2 separate regions of the Homo sapiens genome follow, and region 1 is linked to region 2. The links come from fine-mapping of genetic effects on gene expression. A gene starts in region 2. The other region holds a variant in brackets. All regions are shown on one strand. Distances are from middle to middle. Region 1 has its middle 32 kb from the start of VASP. Region 2 holds the start of VASP (vasodilator stimulated phosphoprotein).

Region 1 (2,904 bases), 32 kb after region 2:
CAAATTTAGGACATACAGATACCTCCTGCCAATCAAAAGGGGAAGGGTAGAGAACCTAGTGGAGAAGGACTTGACTCACAAAAGAGGATGGTATCTTTTTCTTTTCTTTTATTTTCTTTTTTTGAGATGGAGTTTCGCTCTTGTTGCCCAGGCTGGAGTGCAGTGGTGCGATCTCGGCTCACTGCAACCTCTGCCCTCCGGTTTCAAGCGATTCTCCTGCCTCAGCCTCCCGAGTGCCAGAGCAGGGAGGGAGAATGACGAGACTAAACTGTAGCTTCAGCTTTCTCTCTTTAAAAACCAAAGCAAAGAGGACAAAATGTTCATTTCTATTAATTCTAAGTGGTGGGTACAAGGTTATTCATTATATTGTTTTCTGTATGTCTGCAATATTTCATAATATATATGTTTTCAATAAAAATTAGCTGGGTGTGGTGGTGTGTGCCTGTAGTCCCAGCTACTCAGGAGGCTGAGGCGGGAGGACTGCCTGAATTCAGGAGGTGCAGGTTGCAGGTTGCAGTGAGCTGAGATGGTACCACTGCACTCCAGCCTGGAGGACAGAGCTAGGCTCCATATCAAAAAAAAAAAAAAAAATGCCACCTGAAAAAAAAAAAAAAAAGATTCTAGCTAGCTATGGAGTCTCACACCTGTAATCCCAGCACTTTGGGAGATCAAGGTAGGAGGATTGCTTGAGACCAGGAATTTGAGGGCAACATAGTGAAACCCCATCTTCACACACGCACACAAAATAGCTGGGTGTGGTGGTGTATGCCTGTGGTCCCAGCTCATCAGGAGGCTGAGGGGGGAGGATTGCTTGAGCCTGGAAGATCAAAACTGCAGTGAGCTGTGATTGCACTACTGCACTACATCCTGGGCAAAAGAGTGAGTCCCTATCTCAAGAAAAAAGCAAGTGAGGCCAGGCACGGTGTCTTACACTTGTAATCCCAGCATTTGTGGGAGGCCGAGGTGGGCAGATCACTTGAGGTCAGAAGTTCGAGACCAGGCTGGCCAACATGGTGAAACTACCTGTCTCTACTGAAAATACAAAAATTAGCCAGGTGTGGTGGCGTGTGCCTGTAATTCCAGTTACTTGGGAGGCTGAGGCAAGAGAATTCCTTGAACCTGGGAGGCGGAGGTTGCAGTGAGCCAAAATTGTGCCATTGCACTCCAGCCTGGGCAAAAAAGTGAGACTCCGTCTCAAAAAAAAAAAAAAGAAAAGATGCTCAACACATTAGTTAGTAGAGCAATACAAGTCAAATTCACAATGAGATGCCATTTCCCAGCCACTGGAATGGCTATAGTCAAAACAGTGAACAACCACTAATGCTTCCAAAGTTTCTGTATTAGTCAGTTTTCACACAGCTATAAAGAAATTCCTGAGAATGGGTAATTATAAAGGAAAGAGGTTTAGTTGACTTACAGTTCTGAATGGCTGGGGAGGCCTCAGGAAACTTACAATCATG[G/A]CAGAAGGCAAAGGGGAAGCAGGCACCTCCTCACAAGGCAGCAGGAGGGAGAAGTGAAAGGGCAGGAAAAACTGCCATTTTAAAATTCATTAGATCTCATGAGAATTCACTCATTATCAGGAGAACAGCATAAGGGAAACCACCCCCATGATCACTTCCCTCCCTCAACACATGAGGATGACAACTCGAGATGAGATTTGGGTTGGGACACAGAGCCAAACTATATCAGTTGTAGGGTAACAAAACTCTCGCATGTCACTGGCGGAAATGTAAAATGGTGCAGCCACTTTGGAAAGTAGTTTGGCAGTTTCTTAAAAAGTTAAACATAGGCCAGGTGCAGTGGCTTACACACCTGTATTCCCAGCACTCTGGGAGGCTACTCATCGCTTGAACCCAGGAGTTCAAGACCAACCTGGGCAACATGGCGAAACCCCTTCTCTACAAAAACATCACAAAAAAGTTTTAATATTTTTATTTTTTCTGCCACGCTCGGCTAATTTCTGTATGTTTTGTAGAGATGAGGTCTCACTATATTGCCCAGGCTGGTCTCAAACTCCTGACCTCAAGCTATCCACCCACTTCTGTCTCCCAAAGTGCTGGGATTACAGGCATGAACACTACACCCAGCCAAAAAACACAAAAATTAGCCGGGCGTGGCGGTGCATGTCTGTAATCCCAGCTACTGGGCGGGGGTGGGGCTGAGGTTGCAGTGAGCAGACAGCGCGTCACTGCACTCCAGCCTGGGCGACAGAGCCAGACCTTGTCTCAAAAAAAAAAAAAAGGAATGAGATATTCATGCAATAAAATGGACCATGCATTGTATGACTCCATTTACATTAAATGTCCCAAATAATGCAATCTATTAAGGCAGAAAGTAGATCAGTGATTTTTAGGGGCTGAAGGAAGGAGAATGGAGAGTCACTGCAAATGAATGTGAGGGATCTTTTGGAGATGATGGAAATGTTCTGAAATTGGAATGTGGAGATGGTTGCATAACCATGTCAGTTTACTGAAAATCATCAAATCGTACTCTTAAAATGGGTGAGTTTCGGCCAGGCGCAGTGGCTCATGCCTGTAATCCCAGCACTTTGGGAGGCCGAGGCAGGTGGATCACGAGCTCAGGAGATTGAGAGCATCGTGGCCAACATGGTGAAACCCCGTCTCTACTAAAAATACAAAAATTAGCCGGGTGTGGTGGCGTGCACCTGTAGTCCCAGCTACTCGGGAGGCTGAGGCAGGAGAATCGCTTGAACCCAGGAGGCAGAAATTGCAGTGAGTCAAGATCGCACCACTGTGCTCCAGCCTGGGTGCCAGAGCGAGACTCTGTCTCAAAAAAAATAAAAAATAAAAAATAAAAAATAAAATAAAACAAAGGGTGAGTTTCATGGTGTGTAGATTATGCCTTGCTGTTTAAACAAACAAACCAGGCCAGGACACGGTGGCT
Region 2 (2,904 bases):
CATCTCTACTAAAAATACAAAAATTAGTTGGGCTTGGTGGCCCGTGCCTGTAATCCCAGCTACTTTAGGAGGGTGAGGCAGGAGAATTGCTTGAACCCAGGAGGGGGAGGTTGCAGTAAGCGGGGATCGAGCCAGCGCCCTCCAGCCTGGGTGACAGCGAGAGACTACATCTCAAAAAAAAAAAAAGAAAAAAAGAAATTTAGTCTACCCATTCTCCCAGACAACTCAGCCTGAGGAAACACACTGAGAAACAATGATAACCTCCGAGGAACAGGGTTCAAGGTCTCCCAGAGTGGGGTGGAGAAGGGGAGGGGAATTAATGTCAAAGCTTGGCCTGGAAGGATGACGTGCTCCCCAGGTAAAGGAGGTCAGGACAACATCAACATCCGGACATGGGACTCGGCTTGGACATACGCTGGAAAAGTGGATTCTCTCACATAGTCAGCTGGCCCTGAGAATTGTTGGTTTTACACTCAGACCTTGGTGGCTTTCCGGGTTCTGGGGGCTCAGGCAAGAGGGCCATAGGCCAGATTCATTCCCTGTCTCCAGGCCTCAGTTTACCCGTGTGTAAATGTGGAACTAACTGATTTCCCAGGGCTCGGGCGCCTCACCCGGGCCAGGTGGCGCTCTACCCAAGGGGCGCGACCAAATCAGTGACGTCACTCGGGGCGGGGCCGGCAAGACACGCTGCGGAAGCCTCAGAGGGTGTCTGGGCTCAGCCCGGAGCCGGCGTGTGGGGGCGGGGGCTCCCGGGAGGGTCTCCTCACCTCCGGGCCCTCCTGAGGGCTGGGATGATCCTGCTGTCCTCCGCAGGCGAAACTGAGTCAGAGCGGGGCGTGCGTGGGCCGGAGGCTTTACACACCAAAGAAGCCGGCGCCTCCTGCCCACCCCGGGCGAATGCCGGGCCCCCCACTCCCGCACTCCTCGCCAGTCCCCACCTCCACCCCACCCCACCCCCGACCCTGCGGCTGTGAGTCAGCGACCGACCGCGCCCCCTTGGCCCACTTCCTCCTCACCTTCCCGGGGCGGGCGGGGTGGGGTGAGAGGGGTTGGGCCCTACTCCCCCGACTTCCACTCCCGTGCGGGTGGGGGTCTCGCCCCCTTAGTAACCTCTCCGAAATTGACAGAAGAGAAACGCTGGGGAGGGGCGGTGTTCCGAAGATGGGATTTCAGGGAGAAAATCTGAGACCACTTGCTTAACTTGAGGGTCCTCCTCGACCCCCAAAATTGAGCGGAGTACGAGATGGAGAAGTCGATGGGGAAAGAAATCGCGCCCCTTCCGAGACCCTCCTCAGAATTCCCACAGTGGGAGCGAACTAGGAAGCAAGGGAGGTCCCCTTCCCCTTCACCAACTTGCCCCTCAGGTGGGGGTGATTCCCAGGGTGCACCCCTGGGCTACAACATTGGGGAGAGGAGCGAGATCGCGGAAGCCGAGGGTGCAGAGTTGCCCTTTTAAGCGCCCTCCACCCCCTCGCCTGGAGGCGCACGCGGCCCCTTTAAGGCGCGGGGCATTGTGGGTGCGGGGAGTGGAATTTTGGAACGAAATGTAACGAAGAGAAGTACAGTAGTAAGAGTAACACTGTAGCCGCCACCGGCAAGGGGTGCGCGCTGGGGAGCGGACGCTGCATCCCCTTTCTGCTGCAGGAACCTCTCATCAGACCGCCTGAGGGAAGCGGCGCCCGGAGACCCGCCCCGGCCCGGTCCACATTCTCCCCAGGAAGCCGGACTCTATGGGGCGGGACCCTGGGGGAGCCTGAGCCGAGCCCGGAGCCAGCCCCGAACCCCTGAACCTCCAGCCAGGGGCGCCCCGGGAGCAGCCAGCCCGTGGGCGAGCCGCCCGCCCGCCGAGCAGCCATGAGGTGAGCCGGACCTGCCCCCCGACCCGTCCCCGCCCGGGCGGGCTCCGCGCCCCGCCTTTGTCCCCCTCCCCCCCAGCTAGCTCCGGGCTGGAATTTGGGGACAGATCCTTGGGAGCCTCGGATTTGAGCTGAATCCCCTTGGACGCGCCCCAGAACCGTCGATCACTTCTCCACGACTGACTCCCCAAGCTCGGGGGGTGGTGGCGGTGAGGTTCTCCTGGGAGCCCTCAAGATTTGGGGGCGCTCGGAGGACTCCCGAATTGTTAAGACTTTTTTTAGAGGACCTCAAAGTTGGCAGCGACTCCCCGCAGGGATGCCAGGATTGAGGCAGGGCTCAGACTCTCCTCCCCCTCCCCCCAGACTTCAGCTCGAGGTCCGGGAAGGATTGTGGGGGACCGATTTGGGATACCCTGGGACTTGGAAGAGAGACTGAGACTCAGACCCTGGGTGTGCAGGTCCCCCGTTTACTTGGTGCTGGAAAAAGTCTCCCCAAGTGGGACCGCGCTCCATAACTTCGGGGGTACTTCTTAATCCCCTGGATTTTGGGGGTCACTTAGGTCTTCCTGTGGAGGAGGCTGGTGTGAACCGATCCAGGGACCTGGACGCAGCCTCCAGAGTCTGGTGGGACCCCCCCCTTCCCCGTCGCTCCGCACACAATCTGCTTAACTGGCCGTGCCTAGGACCGAGCGGGCGCTCGGAGCAGAGGGCGGCTCCCCGCCTCCGGCCATAAGGGCGGCCCGGCTCCCCCACCTGCGCGGCCCTGGAGAGGGAGGGGGCGCGGCAGCTGGGGGAAGGGGGCCTTTGTCTTCCTGACTCACCTGTCGAGACAGCTGGTGTGGGGGGCGGGCACCAAGCGCTGTAGGCCGGCTGCCTTCCCCACCACGGCCCCTCCCCCTTTGCTCACCGTCCCCCTATCCACCCGGAGCCTTGGGGTTGGAGGAGGGGGAGCTGGAAAGCTTCAAGGTCATAGCCCTCTTCCCTAGGGACCCAGGCTTCCCAGATAATTCCAGCTATCTTCCCAGGAATTTAATCCTGGGGGTGGCGG

What was found. PIP is the estimated chance that this variant, and not a neighbour inherited with it, causes the effect.
Region 1: its variant is the best candidate, but not a certain one, in a credible set for the expression of VASP in whole blood (TOPMed, PIP 0.88).

Annotation. Positions count from the first base shown.
Region 1 is chr19:45,537,527-45,540,430 of GRCh38, forward strand. It overlaps a transcript of OPA3 not described here. Among named protein-coding and RNA genes, the nearest start is that of VASP, 32 kb to the left of the region's middle. The variant G/A (reference allele first, on the strand shown) is at 1,461.
Region 2 is chr19:45,505,918-45,508,821 of GRCh38, forward strand. It overlaps VASP (vasodilator stimulated phosphoprotein), which reads left to right and starts at 1,562. Exons shown (of 13, transcript NM_003370.4): 1 at 1,562-1,859. The coding sequence starts at 1,855. LOC107985314 (a long non-coding RNA gene) reads right to left here and starts at 1,457. Exons shown (of 2, transcript XR_007067269.1): 1 at 768-1,457. RefSeq lists silencers at 623-872, 903-1,032, 1,713-1,892, 2,487-2,686 and enhancers at 1,227-2,011, 1,293-1,562.